Linked DNA regions of Homo sapiens: all the other regions are linked to region 1. The links come from fine-mapping of genetic effects on gene expression. A gene starts in region 1. Each other region holds a variant in brackets. All regions are shown on one strand. Distances are from middle to middle. Region 1 holds the start of CNGA1 (cyclic nucleotide gated channel subunit alpha 1). Region 2 overlaps FRYL (FRY like transcription coactivator). Region 3 overlaps TXK (TXK tyrosine kinase).

Region 1 (8,000 bases):
CTTACAATACTGGTGCCTCATAAATGTTGCTGATGGACCAGTTCTAAACTCATAGGCACTGATAGAGGAGAGATATTTTAAAGAAACTGATGCCAATATATTAAGTGACACTGGCCAAAGTTATGTAACTGCTAAAACCAGGGCCAAGTAACCCAATTCCCAGCCAGCATTCTATTTCAGAAAAATAAAAACATAAAGTACAAGAAAAAGCCAGTTGAAATTTATTATTCATGTTTATATAAGGATGAAATGCTTTAAATAATTTGTCAAATATTTGCCTATAGAGAATAATAATATAAATTTAAATAATAATTTAAATTATCCAGTTTATTACATGGAATAGAAATCTGGTTTTAAGAAAGTCAATAATTGTATAAAACTACCTTTTTAATCACCGCAAGATATTTCCAGTTGGGGGTCTCACCATCTATTCTACTGTGATAGTTTGGATTATTATTCATTCAGTATTCAGCCCCTTACCTTTCCCAATGTGGGCAAAGGTGCTTCACCTGATGTTGGGCTGGAAGTAAGTTGGTGGCCAATGGGAAGTCAGCAGAAGTGATATGAAGCTAGATTTCAAAGATGCTTATGTGGTTGGGTTTACTCATTTGCATCTCTGTAATTCCCTGAGGAGCTGCTGTCCCTTCAGCCTCTGCACCCAAATGAAGACACATGGAGCAGATCTGAGCTCATCCCACATGAAGGAGCCAAACCCAGGTGGACATTAGCCTGAAGCAGAGACATATAGGTGAGCCCCATCTAGATCAGTCAACCTTCAGCTGACCTAGAAACCTAAGCAAGAATATGTGATATACCTGCCTATTCATATTAGCATGGGAATGACTGAATGAAATCTCTTTATATCTGTTACAATTTATTCTCCAAACGCTAACCAGTGGGAAGTAGGTTATATCACTCCCTGGCTTAATACTCCCTGTCCCCTGTCATGGTTTTTCATCTCAACTTACAACAAAATCTCAACTCCTCACTAACTTTGAACTTTAAAGCTTCTCATGCTCTGAAACTGGCTCGTCTCTGACATCATATTGCATTACTCTCCCTCTCACCCCTCTCTGAAACACTAATCTTCTTTTCCTTCATTCAACAAATATGTATGGTGTACTACCTGTTGGGCATTTTCTAGAATCTGGAGATAGAAAAATGAATACAACAATGGTCCCGCTCTCTTATATTCCAGTGGGGGCAGATAGGATTAACAAACAAATAACTATACGTATGTTAAGAGTGCCATAGCAAGTAGTAAAAGCAGCATCAAGGAATATATTTTTTAAAACAGGATTAAACAAAAGAGCCTCTCTGCTAAGTCTAAAAGCAGAAACCCTGAGGGGTTGAAGAAACTGCAGTCAGCCAGGTTGCCTGGGGTGACAGAAAGGGAGATGGTATGAGATGTGGCTAAAGAGTAGGTGGGAGAAGGATCAGGTGAAATGAACCTTTAGACAAGTAGGTCTGATCTTGTCATTCCTCCTTCCAAAACTCCACAAGGGCTTCCCTTCTCATTCCGAAAAAAATCCAAAATTCCCACTATAGCCTATAAGGCCCTGTGGAATCCTGTCTCCAGCTGCCTAACCTCATTCCCTACTATTGCCTTTTCTTCTGTTCCTTTCATAGAATAAGTTCCTTCTCACCTTAAGCTTTTTAAAAAGCAGCTGTTCCTGAGCCTGTTACAGAGTGCTGGCTGGCATAGCTAGCTTCTTCTGAGTGAGAGGACTAAGCAACTCAGAGAGGCCTTTCCTGCCTTCCCAATCTAAAGGAACCTCTCAGTCACTTTCCATCATATGTTCCCAATCAAATAGACTTCCTCATATGGCTTAATTACAGCTTTATAACAACCTTCATACATATTTGCATTTGTTTCTTTTAAAGATAATTTTGGATTAGAGACTCTTTTGAAGCATCTATAGCTTTAAAAGTCAAAACCAATGTGGGGTGGGGGATGGCTCATGCCTGTAAACCCAGCACTTTGGGATGCCAAGGTAGGAGTATCACTTGAAGTCAGGAGTTCAAGACCAGCCTGGTCAACACAGTGAAACCCGTATTAAAAATACAAAAATTAGCTGGGCATGGTGGCATGTGCCTGTATTCCCAGCTACTTGAGAGGCTGAGGCAGGAGAATTGCTTGAACCCAGGTGGAAGTTGCAGTGAGCTGAAATTGCACCACTGCATGCCATCCTGGGTGACGGAGTGGCACTCCGCCTCAAAAAAACAAAAAAAAGTCAAAACCAAAGTATGAAATTAACTTTTTCTTCATGGAAGTTCAACTGGAATGTTCTATCTTCAGATCTCATGACTGACCCCTTGTCATTTGGGTCTCAGCTTGAATATCACTTTCGTAAGGGGCTTTCATTGAATACCCAATCTAAACATCCCAACACTCTTGATACATTACTGCTATTATAATGATCTTTTAAATTACTTTGTTTCTTGCATAGTAGCTGCCATCTGAACAGTAAGGTGCCTGAGAGCAGGAACCTAGTCCTAGAGTCTGGGACCAGACTGTCTTGCAGATCCCTCTATCCCAGCACCTATGCCAGTGCTTGGCACATGGGACTCTTGTTATTTGAATGAACAAGTGAAAAATTGAGTCTTTGTTTACTCCATGTCAAGCTCTGAGTGGTGTAGTTCATATGTAATCCCACCTGCACCTACTCTTCAGAACTGTAAACTGGAGGGATGACCCCCAATTTATAGACAGGAAAATGCTCAAGGAAGCTAAGTTACAGCTCAGACTGTCTGATGCCAAAGCCTAATCTCTTCCCACTACTAATAACGTGCATTCAGATTTCTAAGTCTTTCTCACCAGCTTTTCACACAATTAATTACCATGGTTAATCACAGGTATTAAGCCTGGAGCTTAAATGTTTCTTGTTGGAACTCAATGCATAAGCAAAGCAGGAAAAACATCCAGAAGCTCAAACAAGTGGGTGTAATTCATATACCTTCCTTACTTACAGATCCTTGGGTAAACAAGTGTGGGTGTGTTAGTAACTGTCAGATTTGCTGGGTTAGAAATTATTTAGAAAAAGGGCACACAACCTGACTCTCTAGGAAATAATTCTAGATTCAGCTGCCTTAAAATTTTTGTTTTTTAATAGTTTGTGAGTTGTTCAGGCGTTATTGCTCTTTTTCAGAAAAAAAGACTAGAAAATAATTCTAGATCCAGCGGCCTTAAAAAATTTTTTTTAATAGCTTGTGAATTGTTCAGGCATTTTTCTCCTTTTTTTGGTGTCCCTTCTCTTCCTTGCTAGCATGGTTTGGACGAGCTCACTTGTTAAAAAGGAATAAGCTGGAAGAGTCAAGAGGAGAGGAAACTAGGGAAGTTGCGAGCACCTTTGCAAAGGTGTATATGTATATACATATATATATATATATATGTGTAAGGGAACTATATATATATGTGTATATATATAGTAGTTCTTACCATGCCTTTCACTGCCTCCCTTCCCCTTTACTGCATTATCAGGTAAATTAAAAAGCTGCTTTCCCCTTGGTACGGCGAAAACCATCATTTCAATGTATCTACATCCTTCCAGTCGCTCCCCCTACCCCCTTCCCTACTTTTATCGGGGCCTTCTGTATGGAGACTGCAGAAAACCCGCCAGTGTTGCGAACACTTGGCGAAGGGCAAGGAGCCTCGCCCAGAGATTTCACGGGGCTCAGGTGAGAAGCAGTAAGAAGAGCCTGCAAACGAGTGCTCCCGGTTCCAGGTTTCCTCTCCAGTACGGCTCTCGCCTTAAGCAGCCAGAGTGACTGCACAGCGAGTCAGACAGGCTCATGGGTTTGGAGACCTTTTCATTTCCAAGGAAGAGGAGAGACGTGGGCGGCCCAGACTTGCCCAACGCCCACCCCCGCGGCCCCGGGCGCCCAACCTCTCGCGGTGCTCGATCCCCGGGAGCCAGCGCAGGGCGCAGCGCAGAACTCCCACGGGCCCCCCAGGCAGACACGCCCTCTGCCCACCGGGTGACGTCGGCCGCAGACTCTGGAAGGGAGCCTGAGTCAGAGGAAACGTCCTTCTCAGAGGGACTCGGGATTCTTCCCATAGCATCCTGAGTTTCCCCGTCCCACACGCAGCACGCGGTAATTTACACTGGTCGGCCTCGCGAATCGAGTGGGAGTCCCACCTGCCTTATTCCACTCAGGTTTTCCAGCACAGCCCGAATCGCCTAGGCACCCATAAATAAGTGTTGAACGCCTGGCTGGACGGCCGACTGACTGAATGAATGAATGAGTGAACGACTACGTTTAGAGTCGGTACAGCCCCCCTTTCCAGTCTCCGCAAGTGTCCGGGGACCGCCCACCCGGTCTCTTCGCCACCCAGCTGCCAGGTCCCTCGGCTCAGGGCAGACACAAACCTTCTCGGCAGGGCTCTCCGGGCGGCAGCCTCACCTGTGCCCCCATGGCCCCGGGAGCGGGCTTCCGGAACGCGGGCGCTTGCTCCTCACCTGGGCCTCTCCACACGCACCCGCGGCGGGCGGGGCTGCGGGGTCTGGGAATGGGGCGCCCTGACCCCGCCCCCGGGGCAGCCTCCGCCAATGGGCATGGCCAGGCGGGGCCTCAGCGCCAGCCGAGCCCTGCTGCCCGGGGCTTGTTGCGAATTCTCAGGGCCCCCGCAGGCCTGGGAGCGGCCTGTGATAACTGGTGTATCTGGCAGGAGTAGCAGCTGCCCCTTGGCGCGACTGCTGGAGCCGCGAACTAGAGAAACACAGACACGCCTCATAGAGCAACAGCGTCTCTCGGAGCGTGGAGCCCGCCAAGGTAACTCCGGGAATTGAGTGGAGTGGAGGCTGCACTGAGGCCCCCTTCTGGCTCCTCTCTGGTCGAAAAGGCTCCCCCGCTAGAGAGAGCCCTGCTGCTTTTGGAAGCCTTCAGGTGTTAGTTGCTTTGCACCGAAGCTGCTGACTGCTGGGGTTCTGCGCCGATTGCCAGGCTCAAGTTTATTTTGGGGGCTGCTGAGCAGACTTTGCCCTTCTGTGCTGTTATCAGCTTCTGTCGCTGTCCGTCCACGCCCGCTATATCCATCCACTCTCCGTTCTGTCTCCAGCAGGCAACTCCCCCTACCCTGCCCCATTTTCTGGGTCATAGGGGTATTTGAAATAAACCTTTAAGGGAAAAGCAATGCCAAAACTGGAAAGACTTATTTCCACGAATTATTAATAACTAATGTTTATGATATCCTTGTTATACCATACATATGCAGGCACATTATGTATTAATTAAATCTCACAGCAGTCTATTAACGCTCAGTTTACAGATGAGGGATTAGAGGCAAAGAGTGAGGTTAAGTAACCAAACCAAGGTTGGAAGACCTGATAGCAGGTATTTACAAAACAAGGAGTGGGCAGGGCTGGCGGGTGGCTCACCCCTGTAATCACAGCACTTTGGGAGGTTGAGGCGAGTGGCTCTCTTGAGTCCACAAGTTCGAGACTAGCCTGGGCATCATGGTGAAACCCTGTCTCTACAAAAATTAGCCAGATGTGGTGGTGTACTCCTGTAGTCTCAGCTACTCAGGAGGCTGAGGTGGGAGGACGGATGACTTGAGCCCAGGAGGTGGAGGCTACAGTGAGACATGATCGAACCACTGCACTCTAGTCCAGGCAACAGAGTGAGACCCTGTCTCAAGAAAAAAAAAGGTGAGGGGTGGGGTAGTGAACAATTCGGGCTCAAACCCTCACCAGGGAGAACTGGGGTGCCTTTGTGCTCTGGCATTTTAACACTGAGGAAAATATTCTCATGTACTCAGGTAGCCTTTGTTCTAAGTAGGCATGAACAGTGCTATTAATTTTATTACCTAAGAGTTTCATAGCAGAGGCCTCAATCTTGTTTTTCTTGTTCTTAGGCGGATGAGAGAAGAGCTAAGAACAAATTAGTCAACATACCAGTCCAAGGCACCCACTTTTATAATACATATGGATGACTTTGCAGAGAAGGAACACCACGGAGAGTGGAATAGGTGAAAGTTGAAAGCGAGGGAGATTTATGCCAATTTTCCATAACAAGCCTTAAAACTTAGACTTCTTTTTGTTTGCTTGTTTGTTTGTTTGGCTTGGTTTGGTTTTTTTTGAGACGGAGTCTCGCTCTGTCGCCCAGGCTGGAGTGCAGTGGCGCGATCTCGGCTCACTGCAAGCTCCGCCTCCTGGGTTCACGCCATTCTCCTGCCTCAGCCTCCCGAGTAGCTGGGACTACAGGCGCCCCCCACCACGCCCGGCTAATTTTTTGTATTTTTTTTTTTAGTAGAGATGGGGTTTCACCGTGTTAACCAGCATGCTCTCAATCTCCTGACCTCGTGATCCGCCTACCTCGGCCTCCCAAAGGGCTGGGATTACAGGCGTGAGCCACCTAGCCCGGCCCAAAACTTAGACTTCTATTTAAACGTTTTCTTTGGATTTCCAACTTAAAATTTTGTCTTTATCAAAAATTAGTAATGATGGTAAACGTGATCTATGGTGCTTATTTTTTATTTAACAAACACTTGGATAGCATTTACTATGTGGCAAGCACTATTCTAATCTCTTTGTAAATATTTGCTTTATAAATCTTCATGAAAATCCTGTAAGGTAGATACTACTACCCCCACTTTACAGCTGAGGAAATGGAGGCACACAAAGATTGAGTAACTGGCCTATGCACACATAACCAGTAAGTGTGGAACCAAGATGCTAACCAAGAAAGCTGGGCTTCAAGTATGTGCTCTTAACCCATTTGGTAATTGGACATTAAAAAACAAAACAGACTTTAAAAAATGTATCTTTATTGAATTTCAGTTGCATATTAAGGTCTACTTTAGGTAAGAGGCATTTTGTTGTAGTTCTTGCTTTTCAATTCTGAAAATAAAGAGAAAAAATTCAGAAAAAAAATATTTAAACTCATTTAAGACCACTGCTTTTCCAGTTTAAATGTTGCCTAGCAGAAATTTATAATATGTATTTTCCTTCATTGATAATTTCTAGATGACTTTGGGGAATACCGTTATAGTACCACACACTGTCTTTAATGACATAAAGTTGGGGGATATTTATTCCCCCGCAAAATCATGTTGTTTGTTTAACTAAAAGAAGAGCATTAAAAAAATCTCCAACTAGCCCATTCTTTGATTCTAGGAAAATTACTCTTCTGACTCAAAAATTAGAATGCGATAATAACTGAGACCCTCTAAAATGCCAACTTCTGTTTTATTGGTCTTTGTGCTAGGACACTTAGACCCAGGGGTGATGGTCAAAATAAATAATGATTAGTAGAGCCTTAGGGCCTCAAGGGACAAGGCCACAGGTCTTTCGAGCTTGGGGAGGTCTGGGAGGGTTCCTGGTGTGTCAAGGTTAACCCCTGAGTTGCTACATTGTAGGGAGGTCTGTGGTTTCTGGGGCAAGGAATAAGATGACTAGACAAGAGGGGTGGTAGCTGGGGAGTAGAAACCACCTTTGCAAAAATTATATCACTGAGAAAATTTTAACAGTAAGCTGAGTAATTCATCCTCCATCTTGCCTTTCCCTTAATTATTCCTGGGTTATTGAGTTGTGAAAGAAAATCAATAGTGGAGCCCCCAAATCACTAAGCTAAAGGGAAAAGTGAAGCTTGGAACTGCTTAGGGCCAACCTGCCTCCCATTCTATTCAAACTCACACCTCTGCTCACTGACATATCTGATCGCCTCCTTTGGAGAGGCTAGTCAGAAACTCAAAATAATGCAACCATTTGTCTCTTATCTACCTATGACCTGGAAAGCCCCGTCCCTGGTTCCAGTATTCCTGCCTTTGCTTTGAGTTGTCCCGTCTTTCCAGACAGAACCAATGTTCATCTTGCATATGTTGATTGATGTCTCATGTGTCCCTAGAATGTATAAAACCCAACTGTGCTCTGACCACCTTGGGCACATGTCATCAGGACCTCCTGAGGCTGTGTCATGGGGTTGTGTTATCAACCTTGGCAAAATAAACTGTAAATTCACTGAGACCTGTCTCAAATTTTTGGGGTTCACATTTTGGTAAC
Region 2 (9,605 bases), 540 kb before region 1:
ATCATTTTCAAGTATGCAGTTAAGTTCCAGAATTGTTTAGTGTATTCACATTGTTGTGAAATAGACCTCTAGAACTTTTTCATCCTGCAGAACTGAAAAGTCTATACCCACTAAACAACAATCCTGCTTTTCCCTCTGCCCCCAAGCTCTGGTAATCAGAATTCTACTTTGTGTTTCTATGGATTTGACTACTTTAGGTACTCCATATATGTGGAATCATACATATATGTTGATTTGTATTTTTGTTTGTGATTGGCTTATTTCAGGTAACATAATGTCATCAAGCTTCAGCCCCGTTGTGGCATATGACAGGATTTCTTTCCTGTTTTCCCTTTTTTAAGGGTGCATAATATTCCACTATATGTATATACATTTGGTTTATTCATTCATCTGTCAATGGACATTTAGGTTGCTTCCACCTACCTCTTGGCTATTGTGAATTGTGCTGTTAATGAACATGGATGTACAAATATTTGTTTGAGTTTCTGCTTTCAATTTTTTTCAATGTATACTCAGAAGTGGGGTTGCTGGATCATATGATAGTTCTATTTTTATTTTTTTGAGGAACCATCATACTGTTTCCCAGAAAGTATGCACCATTTTACAATGCCACCAACAGTGCACAAACATTTATTTTAACTGCCAAAAGTATTTTGTATAAAATGTATGTGATTTATGTTAGCTGTTAATTTTATGATGTCGTTGAGGTGAAATTTGCTAAAAGGAAAAACAATACTCATAATTGTTAAGTGTAATGAGTAAAATGAATAAAATCTGGCTTCTGAAATCTGTTGGAATTAATTACGGGTCAGAGGAAGCTGAAATTACATCAGTTATCTTTGACTTGTTTTCAATTTCAGAGATAAGCCAGAGAATCCAGACAGCTCACCCTGCTGGGCGGCAGGTGATGCTGCACTACCTGCTACCATGGATGAACAACATCGAGCTGGTGGACTTAAAACCTCTCCCCACAGCAAGGCGACATGATGAAGATGAAGATGATTCCTTAAAAGACCGAGAACTTATGGTGACTAGTAGGCGCTGGTTACGGGGAGAAGGATGGGGATCTCCACAAGCCACTGCAATGGTTTTGAACAATCTGATGTATATGACAGCAAAGGTAAAATGAGTTTTGTATTTATAATTGCTGCACAGAATTATTGAGTGAGTAGATGTGGTTAGAAACAGATGAAGAGGTTCCATAATCCTGTGATAACCAAACAAATATCTTTCTTTAAAAAAGACTCATTAGATATGAATTTTTTTTACTAAAACCATATATGATTAATTATATTTATGTTTAGATTTGTTGGAAGAAATTATTGTTTCTGTAAAGTGTGGAAACGATTAAAGCTATCTGTACAAAACATTTTTTAATATTTCATGGTATGACAAGTTTGGTTTTTATAATAGGCAGTCATGACTGAAGTATCTTTTGTGCATATTGCATCTAGTATGGCGATGAACTGGCCTGGTCGGAGGTGGAGAATGTGTGGACCACACTTGCAGATGGCTGGCCCAAAAACCTGAAAATAATTTTGCACTTTTTGATCAGCATTTGTGGGGTGAATAGCGAACCAAGCCTCTTGCCTTACGTATGTATTCAAGTTCATTTAATTTTAAAATATATGTATATATTTACTAGTATCTTGTGATGTCAGAGTATGGGCAGCAGTTGCCCAGGAGAGGCAAGGCAAGGCAAGGGCCGGGATGAAGACAGTCAGGAAATAGCACATGGATTTATTCACTGATTCAGTTAGCAAATGTTATCTATCATTATGACAGGCCAGGTGCTCTTCTGGGTATTACAATCTGATGGGTAATACAGAATTTATTTGTTGAAGCTACATCTGATTTATTTAATGAATAAATCAGTAAGCTAATAAAGTATAGTGTGATAAAGGCTATAAAAAAATTGCAGAGTTCTGAGAGTAAAAAACCTAGGAACCACAGCTGTCTGGAAGGATTCAAGATGACACTTGAGAGAAAGTGATATTGAAGCTGAAACCACACACTGGGGATGTTTCTAGTTTCTGCTAGGCAGAGCTGGCATTTAGATATGAGAACAGGATGGTGAGTGTGAGCTCAGTGCACGTAGGATTGTCCTTCAGGCTGCTGGAAGCAAGGGAAAGCATGGTAAGAGATATGAAACGAAGAAGATAACATCTTTGCCTTCCAGGGGAGAAAGGAACATCCAGATCTGCCCAAGTCAAGAGGACACATTTGATATGAAACTATGAAACCTGAGGGTTAAATGGACACACATGCTCACATGTCTTTGTAGATGCAGATATAGATATCTATCCCGTGGCAGCATCCCCCAAAAGTGTGGTCCACGGAAGACTAGTCCTACAGAATGTTATCTAAAAGTTCTTACAGGCCAGGCGCAGTGGCTCATGCCTATAATTCCAGCACTTTGGGAGGCCGAGGCAGGCGGATCACCTGAGGTCAGGAGTCCGAGGCCAGCCTGGCCAACATGGTAAAACACCATCTCTACTAAAAATCCAAAAATTAGCCGGGTGTGGTGGCGCATGCCTGTAATCCCAGCTACTCAGGAGGCTGAGGCAGGAGAATTGCTTGAGCCCAGGAGGCAGAGGTTGCAGTGAGCCAAGATTGCACCACTGCACTCCAGCCTGGGCAGCAGAGTGAGACTCCATCTCAAAAATAAAATAAAAATAAATAAATAAATAAAAGTTCTACAGATTCTATTTTAAACAAACCACTTGATAGCTTTGCTTTACTCAGCATTCCCCAAGTTCACTTGGTCACTGAAAGCATCATTGCCAAGGTGTACCACAGGCATAGTGCCTTTGAGAAGTGCTTAGAGAACTGTAGGTGTATGGTACAAGACAACGTTACCGCACGTTACCTCTCTGACTGTGTCTCCTATATTCTGTCTGGTGCTCCCACCCTTCAGCTGCGCTGGCCCCCTTTGCTTCCACCTCTCTCACCAGGCATTCCCTCCTCGGGGCCCTCACACTCACTTGCCTTCTCTTCCCCAGTTAGCCACGTTACTCACTCCTCACCTCTTTCAGGTCCTCCTTCAGGTGGCAGTGCCCACTGGGACTTCTGCTGCCCATCCTGTCTAAAACTGCAAATGCACCACCTCCACACACACACTCCATTTCCTTTCCCTTCTTCATTGATCTTTCTGGCACTTAATCATCACCAAACACATGATATATTTTACCTATTTACCTCATTAATTTTGCATCAACCAGTAGATTGTAGGCTCCTTAAGAATGGTAGTTTTTGTCTATTTGATTCACTGCTAAATTTCCATTTAGTGTAGTGCCTGGCACATAGAAGGTGCCCATTAATTGGATGAACGAATGGGGGAGTTAGAGTCAGTACTAGAAAAAGCATGGGATTATACTTTTAAGAGGCCAAATGAAAATTTGGGGAATAGCCATTTTCCAGGAATTTAAAAGGAGCCATTTTTTAAATGTCAATAATAATTTATTGGTTATTATTTTTTAAGCACTTATTATGGGTGCTTATTATAGGCATGGTAAAAGCACTTCATCCACATTATTTAAATCTCAGAATCTATGAGTTTGGTGAGATCACTGCAGTTTTACAGAGGAAAAAACAGGGCAGAGAGAACGGTAATTTCCTCAAGTTCTCACTCTTGTCACTTAATAGATCTAGAATTCCAACCCAGATCTGATGGTGAAGTCAGTATAAGCTTCCTGGAGAAAGGAGTAGAGTTAAGGTGGGGGATGGGGCTTGAAGACTTGATAGGATTAGGGTTGGGAGTGTCAACTCGGAGATCCACAGTCAGGCGGAAGGAACCCACAAAGGCAGGAATGCACACAGCATGCTCAGAGGAGATCGAACCTGAAAATAGAGAGAATTAGCAAGTAGTGCCCATTGGATGGAGTAAAGAGCCATACCTAGAAGGTTATCACTGGGTAACCATGATAAGAGTTTTGGCCTGGTGCTGTGGCTCACGCCTGTAATCCCAGCACTTTGGGAGGCCAAGGCAGGAGGATCACCTGAGGTCAGGAGTTCGAGACCAGCCTGGCCAACATGATGAAACCCCATCTGTACTAAAACTACGAAAATTATCTGGGTGTGGCGGCAGGCACCTGTAATCCCACCTACTCGGAGGCTGACGCAGGGGGAATTGCTTGAACCGGGGAGGCAGAGGTGGCAGTGAGCCACGATGGTGCCACTGCACTCTAGCCTGGGCGACAGAGCGAGACTCCGTCTCAAAAAAAAAAAAAAGAATTTGGTTGGGATATAATAAATCATGTTTTAAGATTCATCCAGGGGTCATATAAAGCAGTGCTTTTCATATGTCTGTAAAAATACGAATCATTCTGATTCTGGAGGTGGGGTGGGCCTGAGATTCTCTATTTCTAGCAAACTCCAGATGATGATGCCTGTCTTGCTAGGATCACATTTTGAGTAGTAAGGATTAAAATAGGGAGAAAAAGAGATAGGCTGATCAGTTATGAAGTTATTTCAGTAATATACATTACTAAAACATATGTATATACTACTGAAAAGTTTTTCTACTTATACTGTGTTACTAGCCATTTTTAAAGTGCATTATAAACCTTAACTCATTTAATCTTCCTAATAGCTATATGAAGTAGGTGCTATTACTACCCCCATTTTGCAGATGAGAAAACTGAGAGCAACTTTCCAATGATAGAGTTAGTAAGTGGTATATCCACATTCCAAACCAGGCAATGTAGTTGGAGTTCTAATTTAGTTCTAGTTCTTTGCTCTTAATGACTACTCTGGTTGACTATAGGGAATGGGGAAGGCGGAATAAAAGATAAACCCTGGGTTTGGAGGCTGGCTAACTAAAAATCAGAGGAAAATCTTAGGATGTTATTACCTGTGTTTCCATTAAAAGAGAAATTTTTACAGAAAAGTATTTTTTTGTTTTTTTTTTTTTTTTTTTTTAAAGTAAAGAAAGTGCATAAAGTGGAAACCACTAAACCGCTAAACATACTCAGTTCACCCTAATTAGATCTAATGCTGAGAGTTAGAGGGAGGACAGTATTGATAAAGCTGATTAATGTCTTATTGTTGATCAGTGCTAATTTTGATTTAGATTGTGTTTATTCATCTACCACTTAAAGTTGAACTTACTCTGATAAAGTTTGTCTCAGGAGAAATTAATGAGATAAAAACTTTGCTTTTTCTTTTCTGAACGATTTCTTTTGTGACAGGTGAAGAAGGTCATTGTATATTTAGGTAGAGATAAAACAATGCAGTTGCTAGAAGAGCTGGTGAGTGAGCTTCAGCTGACCGATCCTGTCAGTTCAGGGGTCACTCACATGGATAATCCCCCGTATTATCGCATCACTTCCAGCTATAAAATCCCTTCTGTCACCTCAGGTGAGAAATTTGTTAAAACCGATTGCTGTGTGAGATGATAGACATCTTCATCTGCTTCACTATGGTAACCATTTTAGGGTCTCTATGTCCCATAACATGTTATGAATCTCAGATATATACAATAAAATTTATTAAAAGAAAAAAACAAATCTTCCTCAGTATTGAAAGAGAAGCTTAACATAATTGTTAAACAAGAGTTTATTGTGTCTTTAAATGTATATATATATACACACCTATATGTATGTGCATATATTAAAATTATTGTAATATTTTGAGTATGAAGAAACTATGTTCCTAATAGAAGAACATCCAATGAAATTCAAAATAGTAAAAAGGCTATTGTAGATGAAATTTCTGTTAAACTCTTTGTTACTCAGTTTACTTTAAATGTTTTCAGCATGCTAATAACATTATCTGTAAAACTAGAAATATTTTAAATTATCTCTTTATAATTTATTTTTTACCATCCATTTTCATCACCTAGTCCTTTTGTTTTATTTTCCAGGAGATGTCTAATAATGCTTCTATTGAATTTTTCATATCGGCTAGAATGTTTTTAATTCTAAAGTTTCATTTAATTATAATTTTTTAAAGTAGCATCCTATTCATGTTTCATAGTTGGACTGTTGTTTCGTATCCAATACAGTTATAAAGTTTTCTCCCAGCAGAAGTCCTCATTTTCTCTACATTGCTGTTTTGTGTTGATAAAACTTTTCTCAAAAGCCTACCAATTCTAGATCTGTCTTTTCATAAAGAGTAGAATATTAAAAAAAATATAAGTTCTATAAGTATATATGGAACTTGTTGTCTGTGTGCTTTGTCGTACCATGATTTCAGTGATGCCAACGTCTGTAGGTCTTTTCTCCTAGATTTATCAGATTCCCTAGAGAAAACTCTTTCTAGTCATTTGCCTGCAGAGGGTGTGTCTGAACACACACACACACACACACACACACACACACACACACAC[C/ACC]CCTTTGGACTGTTTATATTTATACACACACATATACACAGGCTTCAAACTTTCTGGAAGCCCAGTGGGGTAAGAAGGATGTTGGGGGGGGTGCAGTCTCAAATTTTAGCATGTGCATTTTCATTTAATGCCCCTGTTCTTTGTAAGGTGCCTCCTCTTTCAGGAGTACATGGCGTGCCCTAGTTCAGGAATCTTCTGATTTACTCTCATCAGAAAAGACTTCTAGAAGTGGGGAAAGACAGCCACCCAGCTGCAAGAGGCAAGAAAGTAGATTTGGGGAACCAGTTACTTCTAAAATAGATTGACTTTCAGCCAGGTTTCCTATTTTTTCGCACCACCTTCAACCCCTGTTTCCAGAGGTTCTCGATGCTACCTTTTGGAAGTTCAGCAATATAAACATGGAAGCTTCTTGGTTTTCACCCACCACCACCTTTGGATTCAGCCTTCTTAACACTTAATTACTTACTGTCCATTTGTATTCTAGCATCCAAAAATTTGTTTGTCTTATGTCCTTTCCCTTTTGGTCATTATGAGTACATTCCTTTTTTTAAATGACTTTGCTCTCATTTTAGTTAAGTTTTGATATCTATAATTTGAGATCTTTTGTTCTTATTGGGTTATTCCAGGTTTGTAGATTCACGAGTACTGCTTTGTCTTTGATTACAGGAACTACTTCCAGTAGCAATACAATGGTAGCTCCCACAGATGGCAATCCTGATAATAAGCCCATTAAAGAGAATATTGAAGAGAGGTAAGTACTTCTCTGTTCTGTATTAGCCTTTCAGTTTGACAGATACTGGTTGTCATCAGAATAAATGATATTTTCTGCATTGAAATGTGGATGTTGCTGTGTTAAAATTCGAGTGAAAAAAATATATTTCCATGCTGGAAACTTTCCACATTGAGAGTTTCAACATTAAAGATGCTAGCCTGCTAGATTTTTTTATATGCTCTAATGTATAAATAGGTGGTATATGGTAAGTCACTTTTTGTATTGCTTAAAGTTTTAGACCTATATAAATGGTATTTACTCCACCTGTTTTGTATGCCAGAATATTATTTTAGGTAGAAATAATTGATTAAAAGTTTAAGCTTTTGGATTATAAGGTGGAAATTAATGTACGTCATAGTAAACTTTTGTTAGTATTTTGTGTACTGTGTCCTTTTTTTTTTTTTATTGAGATGGAGTCTCGCTCTGTTGCCAGACTGGAGTGCAGTGGTGCAATCTCAGCTCAACCTCTGCCTCCCAGGTTCAAGCAATTCTCCTGCCTCAGCCTCCGGAGTAGCTGGGACTACAGGCACACGTCACCACGCTCGGCTAATTTTTGGTATTTTAGTAGACACGGGGTTTCACCATGTTGGCCAGGATGGTCTCGATCTCCTGACCTCATGATCCTCCTGCCTTGGCCTCCCAAAGTGCTGGGATTACAGGCTTGAACCATGGCGTCCGTCCTCCTTTTTTAAACAGAGAAAGTGAAACATAAAGTATAAATACCATTGCACCGTGAACTGTGACTAACTTCAGTGATCATTCCCATAGCTATGTGCACCTGGACATTTACAGTGGACTAAACAGTCATTTGAATCGGCAACATCACAGACTAGAATCCCGATACAGTAGCAGCTCTGGAGGATCTTATGAAGAAGAAAAAAGTAATAAATTCCAAATGTTTTTAATATAACTATAAGGGTGAGGTGTATTGTTAATTACATTAATGTTAATAAATATATATTTTCAGTAAATTGTTTTTAAAAAGCGTATTTAACTGCCACTAGTGGTGTTCCAACATAATCTGAAACATCTTGATTTTAAGAAGCAACGTAATTGGGTGAAATTTTTTTTAAAGCACTGGTTTCCTATAGATAAATCACAAGGAACATAAGAACTGGTTCTCAGGAAGCATCATAGAACAAATACTGGAAACAGGCTGATTTTTTTTAGCAGGATTGCTCCTTCTGCATGGATTCACTTTTTCCTTAAAAGATTCTCCCTTGGCAATTGCAAAGTGAATAATCTACCCAAGTTTCACTATAACGTTAAGGCAGGGTATCATAGAAGCACAGGCTTTCAGACTGGGAAGGGACACTGAAGATGATCTGGTCCAATCTCCTCATTTTGCACATGATGGAACTGAGGTCCAGAGAGGTTAAGTGACTTACCCACGTCACACAGAATTCACATTTCCTGACATTTTTTATTGCACCCCGCAGCCCCACTGTGGTAGAGCAGAGTTCCTTTCAAGATGGAGCTGTGTTGGCCCTATCTCAGGATATTTAGAACTGAATAACTTACCAGAAGGCCCTTTGTTACAAGGCAGCTTCACCAATAATGTGATCTCCTGGCTTGGACATCATTGATGGAATCATGATGAAGTGCTAATATAGTTTTGCTTTGACGTACAGGGTGGAACCTAAATTAATCTCTTTCTCTCTCTCCCTCTCCCTGGTTTGCTTAATTTGATAATATTTGTGCCTAGATTTTCCTAGCAAACATGTTGAAATAGTGGGAAATTTTTTTTATCACTTTCCAATACTATATAAATAGTTGGGATCTTACTAGAGTTTGCTTATATTGGCAGAAATTAGATGGTGTAGAAAATGAGATCATTTTATCTTGATAGGTGATTCAATGCCACTTTATTCTAATTGGCGACTGAAAGTGATGGAGCATAACCAAGGAGAGCCACTGCCCTTCCCACCAGCTGGAGGCTGCTGGTCACCACTGGTGGATTACGTGCCTGAAACGTCATCACCTGGATTACCTCTTCACAGGTGGACTACAGCGTCATTCCTTTTACATATGCACCAAGTTGCTGCTGAACACTGTCGGCTTTCTTTGTGCTATCTGACAACACAGAATGAAAGCAATCTTCTTTATGGAGATACTGCAACACAGATCAATGTGTTTAGATTCTAAGAAATCTAAAAAACTCAGAATTCTAACTTTATAAAATTAATATTATTAAATCTAATTCTGCTGCTGCTTTTCTGGGTGTCTGGCATAGTTACTTGACCTTTCTGGGACCCAGTTACTACATCTGAAAAATATGACTTTCCTATGGTAGGCACTATTATTTTGCATCGAGTTAAATTGAATTCTACTTAGCAAAATCACAATAGAGCAATTACTGCATTCTTTCAAAATGTATTAATGCACCAAACATGTATTGAACACCTACTGTGGCAAGCAGTGTGCTAAGTCTCAAGGTTGAAAGATGAAGAAAATGTGGCTCCTGAGTTCAAGGAACCCTTAGCCCTTATGTTCTGTTCCATCTCT
Region 3 (10,944 bases), 54 kb before region 1:
TGGGTGTGGTGATGTGTGCCTGTAGTACCAGCTACTTAAGAGGCTAAGGTGGGAGGATGGTTTGACCCCAGGAGGGGAAGGTTGCAGTGAGCCAACATGGTGCCATTGCACTCCAGCCTGGGCAACAGAGCCAGATCCTGTCTCAAAAAAAAAAGTGAAGGCAAACTATTGAATCTATACCATTGATGGATATCACCATAAAAATGACTTGGCGGTACACACAGAGAGGTAGTGTGGGGTCCAAATAACCTAAGGAAAAGGAGAGGAAAAACTCTTGAAATAAAAGCTTGTATTCAAACTTGGATTCTTTTCTTCTTTCCATAGGCGGCAAGGAATTGTTTGGTCAGTTCAACATGCATAGTAAAAATTTCAGACTTTGGAATGACAAGGTACATGCTATGTATATATATATGTATTTTGTTTGTTTGTTTACTCATAAGAGGGAATCTTACATTTGTTTACTGATAAACTGAAGATGCTGCAGGCTGTGTTTTTATCTTCCTAGGTTGTAGGCCTGGTTGTATGGCCTACTGACCCACTTTGAATTTTGGGACATGTACCAATTTTAGCTGTGAGGTAAATGTTTACTGTGGGCTATTCTTCTCATCTTTTAGCAAAACTATGGTATATCTTAAAATTAAAAAAGGAATTTCTTGATACACTGAGAAACGTGAAGAAAAAAGCATTCCTGATATACATATGTTTATGGAAGAAAAAGAAATAAATTTGTTTGCTCAGCTCTGATTTTTCTGTGTCCTCACCAAACATTTCTATTATTAAGTATAGTAGTTGACTTTAAGTCTAAAATTCAAGAGTGTGAAAAATTTAACCATATTTTTCTACAACTCAATATAGTTTAAATTTTGAGCATCCTTTTTTGGGGTGGTGCTAGAAATATAATCACAGGGAATTTGGGGTTTCTCTCTAGCTTCCCTAAGCTTCAAAGTCCAAGTTCTTGTGTCTCGTGGGGCTATAGTACTGGTAGTGAGGTGGCTTACTGGTCCTTTTGTTATCTGTGTGCATGGCATCATTGCAGCCACCATCCTCCGGTCTTGTCTTTGGCTGGCCATTCAAACAGGTAGCTGCTAACACGTACTGAATTTTTTCTGCAAGATTCATTCAGAACTGGCAATTTTTTTTTTCGACAGAGTCTTACTCTGTCACCCAGGCTGGAGTGCAGTGGTGCTCTCTCGGCTCACTGCAGCCTCGACCTCCCAGGCTCAAGCTATCCTCCTGCCTCAGCCCCCCGAGTAGCTGGAACTACAGGCACATGCCACCACGCCCAGCTAATTTTTTATTTTTGGTAGAGGCGGGGTTTCACCATGTTGGCCAGGCTGGTCTTGAACTCCTGACATCAAATATCCACCCACCTCACCTCCAAAAGTGCTGTGATTACAGGTGTGAGCAGTCTCACCTGGCCGGCGTTCTTTATGATTACAAAACTCCATGGTGTGATCTCAGATCTCATTTACCTAGGCACATCCACAGCCATTTGTTCACTGGCATCTTTCTGCCTTTCCAAGGGCTCCACCTGGGGAAAAGAGCACTGGTTCTGTGTCACTTTTAAATCCCACCAACCTAATGTGGGAGTAGGAGCTTCTTTCCTAAAGTACTTGGGCAGCCCTTTAGGGTACAAGATACAGGACCCTAACCCACTGATCTACTAATGTCTAGTACCCCCCTTTTCTTTCCCTTCTATTTCCCCCATTCCTCTTTTTGGGGGAAAAAGATCCCCCCAAAGCTCAGGGGATCTTTTTCTAGATAGTGGTGGTAATAGGGGTGGTGGTAGTGAGATCTCACTCCTGTTCATGGCCCATTTTCCAAGATATTTTGTTAATAACTCAATCTTTCTTCTCTGAAGAGCCTAGACTTGAAAAATTCAAAATCTATAAACAGTGGCTTTTCTCTCTTTGTTTTCTGTTAGTCATTCTTTACCTAAGTAGAATGACCTCTGACTCAATAAAGTGCTGACAGGTGGAGGGAGGTAGTGTATTTAAAAAAAAAGTGAGAGTATAGGGGCAGCATTAATAAATGCTGTGAAAACACTATATTGTATATTTAAGGGGCAACAAGCACAAGTTTATTTTTGTCTCTTCTCCTCAGTGTCTGACATTTGGACATCCCGGTGTACAATTCTCAAAAAAGAGAGAGGGTTCAACTTGTTATTTTTTTAAGGAGACGGTAGTTATTCTTGGTTTCTTTCCATATAGGGCCATTCTAGTGCATTAGAGATTTGTCATATCAGAAGCATTATGTTCATATACTTTTACTTTCCCCCCTTCTGTATGCCCCACAAAAAAACATGCACATGGAAGAAAATTCGACATCCAACTTTGAATCATTCATTTCCATTTTAAGAAGAGTGGTCTTTGTTTTCCCCACCCCTGGGAAGAGTGGTCTTTTATTTCCTTTTTATAATCTTGGTTGTTAGAGCCTTTAGCAGGCTTCTTTGTAGAGTTAAGAATTTACCATAATTAACATAAACAGTGAGCCATGTTTTGAACTGAAGCAGCATTATGATTTTCAGAGGTCCACGTAAAACAAATACAATTGAGACTTTGTTTGGGGAGGAAACATTATCAGGGACACTTTCACACTCTACTAACAAGAAGGCATCCACAACCTTTCTGGGGTAAAATACTTTGTCTTTTAGCAACTTAGAGTTAACTAAAGGGATTTGAAGTAAATAGAGCTTGGAGGTAATTAACACAATATGCTTTGAATCTGATAAACTTAGGTACGTTTTGGATGATGAGTATGTCAGTTCTTTTGGAGCCAAGTTCCCAATCAAGTGGTCCCCTCCTGAAGTTTTTCTTTTCAATAAGTACAGCAGTAAATCTGATGTCTGGTCATTTGGTGAGTGCATCTGATGTTCACTTGCTGGAGCTTGATTTAATAAAATGGGCAATGTGTTATTTTTAACTTTGATTTCCTAATTGATATAGCATTTTTTAAAAAGTCTTCTTGTAATTGTGCTTCCTTCTGTGTGTTCTAACCACATCCCGACTGTCTTTGGCAACTGGTGTCACATACCTTCTTACATAAGTCTGCCTTTTGGATCTTTTCCTTCCTCCATGGGCACTCACTATAAAACCATAACAAAGAGTCTACTGATCTAGAAAACAAACTCAGATAAGTTTTCCACTCCGCAGAGGCTTGAAGGAAAAATGATCTTATGACATTGTTTAGAGTGTAATTAATAAACTTAATTGTCTAAACTGTGAAGCAGGTTGACTATTTTCCAGTTGTTCAGTTGTTAACCTGAACTTAAAACCTGAGTTTAAAAAATGGTGGCATCTCATTTACTTCCTTAACTTTAAAGTTTGTGGAATTTAGACATAGGCTTCCTTGGGATCTATAAATTGATATTCATATTGGATAATGTTCTTCATTGAGAAAGAGACACCATAGACCCACGTCCAATGAAGTTTCGGGGTTGATTTTCAAAAAATGGTAATAAATATGCAAAAATCTATCTATCCTCTTTCACCCCAAACTTCCTGGAGGCTTGTGGGTTCTGGGTCCTCAGAAGGGTGTCAGTTTTATTGTCTACAATAAGGTTAAAACTGGGCACAGTGGCTCAGGCCTACAATTCCAGCACTTTGGGAGGCTGAAGTGGGAGGATTGTTTGAGACCAGGAGTTCAAGACTAGCCTGGGCAACCTAGCAAGACTCTGTCTTTACAAAAAAAAAAAAAAAATTAGCCAGGTGTGGTGGCATATACCTGTAGTCCCAGTTCCTCGGGAGGCTGAGGCAGGAGGATTGCTTGAGCCCAGGAGTTTGAGGTTATAGTAAGCTAGGATCGTGCCACTGTACTCCAGCCTGGATGACAGAGCAAGACCCTGCCTCAAAAAAATTAAAACATAAATTTAAAAACATACAATAAAGTTAAGCTTGTGTCATTAATCTCATTAGCTCTCCATGGACATATGATAGTCTCAGCAGGTGACACTTGAAGCTCTACTGAAGAGCAATTAGGTTGTGAGACCACATCTTAGAGACCAATGAAGAGCAATATAACGACCTCATCGAAGGTTGCCAAACAATTAGAACTCCCTGAATTTTACCTACTTGTCTCCCTCACTGAACAGTGAGCTCCTTAGGCACATGGATTGATCTCACACTTATAAAATCTCCAGGCCCCAGCAGAGGCCTCGCCTCTCATCAATGTCTAGTAAATATTTGTAGAATAAGTGAATAATTAAATGAACTCAAATTAGGAGTTCTTGCAGGAGTTTCACTAATCAATCAATCAATGATTATTGGACATCTACTTATGTACAGAGCCCCTGCTAGATATTCTGGGGCTCTGCCCATCAGTCTAATCTTTTAGCAGAAAGAAGGGGACACATGCCATTTACTGGCTGAAACTCTTGGCTAAGTAGGCAGCAGAGGCTCACATAATCCTGTCAGTTTCTATGGAATGGCAGAAAGGTTCATTGATTTCAGGATGCAGGAACGTGACTGCTGCTTAGAAATGAAAATGCTAGGCCGGGCGTGATGGCTTACGTTTGTAATTCCAGCACTTTGGGAGGCTGAGGTGGTCGAATCACCTGAGGTCAGAGCTCGAGACCAGCCTGGCCAACATGGTGAAACCCCGCCTCTACTAAAAATAGAAAAATTAGTTGGGCGTGGTGGTGGGCACCTATAATCCCAGCAACTCAGGAGGCTGAAGCAGAAGAATTGCTTGAACCCGGGAGACAGAGGTTGCAGTGAGCTGAGATCATGCCACTGCACTCCAGCCCGGTAGACAGAGGTTGCAGTGAGCTGAGATCATGCCACTGCACTCCAGCCCGGGCGACAGAGCGAGACCCTGTCTCAAAAAAAAAAAAAAAGAAAAGAAAATGCTACTGGCATTTTCTCCTGATAGGAGAGGCAATCAAGACCCATGGACAAGGAAAGGCATTGTTTTCACTTAGATTATTTTCAGGTTACAGGCCTCTTTGAAAACTAAAGTGAACATGATTTGCTTCCTTGACAGAACCGCTGTTATTCAGGATGGTTATAGCCCAAAGCCTGGAGCACAAAAATAATGCCTTGTAGTTTGAAATTGTTCTTTCAGTTCCCAAGCAATCATTTCTCTCTAACCCCTTGTTTTCCTGCATTTTTGTTTGCAGGAGTTTTAATGTGGGAAGTTTTTACAGAAGGAAAAATGCCTTTTGAAAATAAGTCAAATTTGCAAGTCGTGGAAGCTATTTCTGAAGGCTTCAGGCTATATCGCCCTCACCTGGCACCAATGTCCATATATGAAGTCATGTACAGCTGCTGGCATGAGGTAAGCATATGTTACTTTCCTATGAAGGTTGGCAGTCCCAGCATCTGAGAGCAGACCTGATTATCACAAACATTACTTCAGAACTCTGTCATGGCAGGAAAAGGCATCTGTGTCTTGGTCATGATCCTGAGAGTCTGAAGTACTATCTCAAACTCACTACAAAGTCATGAATCCATTTTGTTTTGAACAATGGCCTTTTATCTGAGGAATTCAGTGCATTTTCTGAGTCTTAT[C/G]TGTTTGAGATTGGTTCTTGCAGAAACTCTTGGTGTTACTCAAGCCTCAGTGATTAGATGTTTTATTAGCTTTAAGAATTAATGGGCCGGGCGCAGTGACTCATGCCTGTAATCTCAGCACTTTGGGAGGCCGAGGCGGGTGGATCACCTGAGGTCAGGAGTTTGAGACCAGCCCAGCCAACGTGGTAAAACCCCATCTCTACTAAAAATACAAAAATTAGCCGGGCGTGGTGGTGCATGCCTGTAATCCCAGCTACTGGGGATGCTGAAGCAGGAGAAGAATCTTGAACCTGGGAGGCGGAGCTTGCAGTGAGCCGAGATGGCGCCACTGCACTCCAGCCTGGGCGACAGAGTGAGACTCCATCTCAAAAAAAAAAAAAAAAAAAAAAAGAATTAAATGATGGAGGCTGTGTGTGGTGGCTCACGCCTGTAACCCCAGCACTTTGGGAGGCCGAGGTGGCCAGATCACTTGAGGTCAGGAGTTTGAGACCAGCCTGGCCAACATGGTGAAACCCTGTCTCTACTAAAAATACAAAAATTAGCCAGGCCTGGTGGTGCATGCCTGTAATTCCAGCTACTTGGGAGGCGGAGATAGGAGAATTGCTCGAACCCAGGAGGCAAAGGCTACAGTGAGCTGAGATTGCGCCACTACACTCCAGCCTGGACAACAGAACAAGACTCTGTCTCAAAAAATAAATAAATAAATAAATAAGCAAATAAATAAAAGAATTAATGGTGGAAACTAAGGGTAGAACCAGGCTTGTTAAATTTCCAGGTTGAAAAAGAAAGATGGTGTTTCCATTTACTTCACTCAACTTTGCTTTGTCTTGCTTTTCCAACGCTAATAGTAATGGGTTTCATCTGTCTTCTGGCAGTCAGGACTCCTGCTACAGATTAAACTAGAATAGGAATGGAGGCAGAAAGTGTGTCAGGAACTTCCACTCAGGAAGAAATCTCTCCAGAACTTAGTTTTTCTATTTGTTGAAATGCCAAGCTTAGAAATAAAGCCAGAGGGGCTTCTTTTCCACCTCTGGGCACTGACTCAACACACCCCTGCCCTTCTCAGTGAAATTCCCTTTGATTTTGAGAGCTTTGGTCTCTTTCCAGCTGACAGTTTCAGCTGGAAATTGCAGCTTGATGAGAAGTTTCCTCCTGGCTGAAAAAATAAAGCACTTGATTATCAATCCACAAACACTAGAATATTGAATATTTTAAGAGTGATGTGGTTATTCATATTCCAAAAGCATTACATTTATAGAGAGCCCCAATGTATGAAAATATTTTACATATATTAACTACTTTACAAGGAATCTTGAAAGACATAGAAAAATGCTCAGCAAGCTGTAAGAAAAAAATGTTCAGAAAAATGTTCAGTGAGTAGTAATAAGCAGCCGTTTTAGGAGCATCTTTGCAATAACAATGTAAGTAGCTCAGAAGTATATGTTGTGTATGAAATAATACACACGTGTGTGTGTAATATAATGCTTATTGAGATGTTATATGTAAGTGGAACTGAGACATAGAAGGAGGAAGGGAAGTGATAAGTAGGATGCTGTCAGAAGGACCATGTAAACAACATTTGTCTCAAATTGCAATCAGAACATTGATTAATACAATGGTGTGGTTATGTCGATTTATTTGTTTGAAAAAGTTGATTTGGCCGGGTGTGGTGGCTCATGCTTGTAATCCCAGCACTTTGGGAGGCTGAGGTGGGCGAATCACGAGGCTGGGAGTTCGAGACCAGCCTGGCTAACATGGTGAAACCCCGTCTCTACTAAAAATACAAAAAAATTAGCTGGGCATGGTGGCGGGCACCTGTAATCCCAGCTACTCAGGAGGCTGAGGCAGGAGAATTGTTTGAACCTGGGAGGCAGAGGTTGCAGTGAGCCAAGATCCCACCATTGCACTCCAGCCTGGGTGACTGGGCCAGACTGTCTCAAAAAAAAAAAAAAAAAAAGAAAAGAAAAGATTGATTTATTTTTGAGACAGAGTCTTGCTCTGTTTCCCAGACTACAGTGCAGTGGCACAATCACATCTCACTGCAGCCTTGACCTCCTGGGCTTACGCAATCCGCCCAGCTCAGCCTCCTGAATAGCTGGGACTACAGTGATGTGCCACCATGACCAGCTAATTTTTTAAAATTTTTTCTAGAGATGGGGTCTCACTTTGTTGCCCAGGCCTCAAGCAGTCCTCCTACCTTGGCCTCCCAAAGTGCTGGGATTACAGATGTGAGTCATTATGTCAGGTGCAAAAGTTGATATTGCCTACAGCTTTACCCCATGTGCTTAGGGCATTAGAGTCAAACGTGATTATGCTATCTTTGAGAGACAAATTTCAGGATTCATGCGCAGAAACAGGCTCCTCACAGAGCTCCACAATTTATGCCCAGAGTCTCAATAAGGACCCTCACTTGCACTTGTGCTGTCTTCTGCTCTGTTTATTTTACTGATGCTCTCTGTTTATAAGCCATGAAGAGGGGTGTCTTTCCGCTGACCCTACTGTCAATGACCCCTGTGAGAATGTGGCTACTATGAGTAGCTCTGTTTCCCATGGTTTTAAAAGATGCTGACAGTGCCATCTCTTCTTCCTCTTGGAATCAGAGCTAAACCACACCCCTAAGTGAAGTAGGAAAAAATGCTCCAATCCTTGGCTCCATGACCAGGGATATGGGGTCACTTATGGTGAATATCTTCCTTTAGAGTTGCTGACTCAAAAACTGTGCAAAGATCACAGGCTTTTAAAACTTTTTAAAATGTAAGAATATTCAGCAATCATTTTTCTATGTGTGAGAGGGACTTCCACACTCTTATTTTTCTGTTGACTGAGACTGAAAGCACAACCTGTGCCCCAAGACCTTCAAAGTCCCTCATGAAAACATGCCTTTTGCTTTCTGACTGAAATCCTCCTTTCTATAATGGCTCAGGTGTCATAGATACCCTGAACTGAGCTTGGGAGCCTGGTATGCTAGATGCCCCTTCTCCCAGCCCTTTCTTTACCTCACACATGTCAAGTCATTCAAATATATCTCTAGGGTCGTGGTGTCCTAGAGTACTTTCTGAGATGCTGAAACGTTCTATATCTGTGCTGCCCAATATGGCAGCCACTTCTGGCTATTGGGTTCTTGAAAAGTGGCTAGCACGACTGAGTAACTGAATTTAAACATTTATATAATCTTAAGGAATTTAAATTTAAATAGCCACATGTGGCTAGTGTTTGCAGGTCTAGCCGTTTTATTTTTGCAACATTCTCTAACATTTTCATATTCACGCCTCACTCAACTGCCAATCATGCTGTGCTATGTCAGTCAGTCAAGATATCTTTCTCTTCCTTTTTGTGAAGAGCCAGCCTGGATTCAGGTCTCTGCCAGCAAGTTCCAGAGCTGGTCTCTGAGTGATCCTTAGCCTATTTATGCCGCAGGTGGCAATTTTTTGAATTTTTGCATGAGTGAAAAATCAGACCTTGGCGATGACCTCGAGCAGTGGGATATAAGTGACTCCCACATGCTTAGCGTTCCAAAAATGGAACCCTTGGCATAAGTTGGTTAAGCTGAGCTAACCACCCCCACTTCCCTTTTCCAGAAACCTGAAGGCCGCCCTACATTTGCCGAGCTGCTGCGGGCTGTCACAGAGATTGCGGAAACCTGGTGACCGGAAACAGAATGCCAACCCAAAGAGTCATCTTGCAAAACTGTCATTTATTGTGAATATCTTCACCATATGGGGTCACTTATGGTGAATATCTTTCTTCAGAGTTGCTGACTCTTGAAAACAGTGCAAAGATCACAGTTTTTAAAAGTTTTAAAAATTTAAGAATATTCACACAATCGTTTTTCTATGTGTGAGAGGGATTTGCACACTCTTATTTTTCTGTAAAATATTTCACATCCCAAATGTGAAGAAGTGAAAAAGACTTCGCAGCAGTCTTCATTGTGGTGCTCTTCATGATCATAGCCCCAGGAACCCTTGAGGTTCTTCTTCACAAGGCTGAGAGTGCTTCCTTCTTGAAGACGAGTGACATTCATCACTTCAGTGATCCATGCATAGAATATGAAAATAAATTCTTCCAACTCATGGGATAAAGGGGACTCCCTTGAAGAATTTCATGTTTTTGGGCTGTATAGCTCTTTACAGAAAATGCACCTTTATAAATCACATGAATGTTAGTATTCTGGAAATGTCTTTTGTTAATATAATCTTCCCATGTTATTTAACAAATTGTTTTTGCACATATCTGATTATATTGAAAGCAGTTTTTTGCATTCGAGTTTTAAACACTGTTATAAAATGTAGCCAAAGCTCACCTTTGAACAGATCCCGGTGACATTCTATTTCCAGGAAAATCCGGAACCTGATTTTAGTTCTGTGATTTTACACTTTTTACATGTGAGATTGGACAGTTTCAGAGGCCTTATTTTGTCATACTAAGTGTCTCCTGTAATTTTCAGGAAGATGATTTGTTCTTTCCAGAAGAGGAGACAAAAGCAAGATAGCCAAATGTGACATCAAGCTCCATTGTTTCGGAAATCCAGGATTTTGAATTCGAGATGAAACAACCAGCAATCACAGTTAAATCTTAACTTTGCCTGCACTCTTTGTAGGAATGATCAGAAATTTATCTTTATCATTCTGAGTGCTTCAGGAGTACAATAGGAAGAAAGATACTGGAGAAAGCACTAATGTAATCACCATGAAGTCTGACAACAGGAGCCCATTATTTGCGTACTGTCCCACCCTGTATCATGGTTCTCTGGGAACAAGCTTTATGATTCTCATTAGAGTTTATTTGTTGATTGTCAGTAGTTGCGACTTTTAAATTATATTTCCCCCACTCAAAGAATGGTATCTTTATATATCAATGACATTCAATAAATGTGTATTATTTCTAATGAGAATCAGTTACAAGAGGAGACTTGATAGTTCAAGTAGTGGTCTCAGAAATGTTTGGGCTGAATGTGGTGGCTCATGCCTATAATCCCAGCACTTTGGGAGGCCAAGGTGGGAAGATAACTTGAGCCCAGTTTGAGACCAGCCTGGGCAACAAAGTGAGATCCTATCTCTATTACAAGAAAAAAGAAAAAAGAAAAAAAAAGCTAGGTGTAGTGGTGCATGCATGCACGTAGTCCCAGCTACTTGGGAGGCTGAGACAGGAGCCCAGGAGATCAAGGCTGCAGTGAGCCATGATTGTGCCACTGCACTCCAGCCTGGGTGATAGAGCGAGACCCTGTCTCAAAAACAGAAACAAGTTTGTATGAGATGCTAGGCTGTTTCTGAGACTATCACACCCCCTTTCCTATGACTCCTGTTACGGTGAGGAAAGACAGAAGGCTGTTATTACTGAGACCTCAATTCACATAACATGAATTTACATAAGATAGTCTAGCTCAAGAAGACATGAGACTACTAAACAGCAAAAGCAGATGGAAGGGAGGTTAATATTA

Evidence for each region. PIP is the estimated chance that this variant, and not a neighbour inherited with it, causes the effect.
Region 2: its variant is fine-mapped to the expression of CNGA1 in synovium (Steinberg 2020, PIP 0.95).
Region 3: its variant is fine-mapped to the expression of CNGA1 in adrenal gland (GTEx, PIP above 0.99).

Annotation. Positions count from the first base shown.
Region 1 is chr4:48,013,256-48,021,255 of GRCh38, reverse strand. CNGA1 (cyclic nucleotide gated channel subunit alpha 1) reads left to right here and starts at 4,575. Exons shown (of 11, transcript NM_001379270.1): 1 at 4,575-4,773. NIPAL1 (NIPA like domain containing 1) reads right to left here and starts at 4,484. Exons shown (of 6, transcript NM_207330.3): 1 at 4,371-4,484. The coding sequence starts at 4,416. RefSeq lists silencers at 3,849-4,008, 4,299-4,628 and an enhancer at 4,393-4,894.
Region 2 is chr4:48,548,968-48,558,572 of GRCh38, reverse strand. It overlaps FRYL (FRY like transcription coactivator), which reads left to right. Exons shown (of 64, transcript NM_015030.2): 34 at 861-1,120; 35 at 1,455-1,595; 36 at 5,190-5,358; 37 at 6,995-7,079; 38 at 7,869-7,981; 39 at 8,950-9,100. Among named protein-coding and RNA genes, the nearest start is that of ZAR1, 64 kb to the right of the region's middle. The variant C/ACC (reference allele first, on the strand shown) is at 6,329.
Region 3 is chr4:48,065,847-48,076,790 of GRCh38, reverse strand. It overlaps TXK (TXK tyrosine kinase), which reads left to right. Exons shown (of 15, transcript NM_003328.3): 12 at 325-389; 13 at 2,738-2,856; 14 at 5,117-5,274; 15 at 9,086-10,398. The coding sequence ends at 9,154. Among named protein-coding and RNA genes, the nearest start is that of NIPAL1, 55 kb to the right of the region's middle. The variant C/G (reference allele first, on the strand shown) is at 5,508.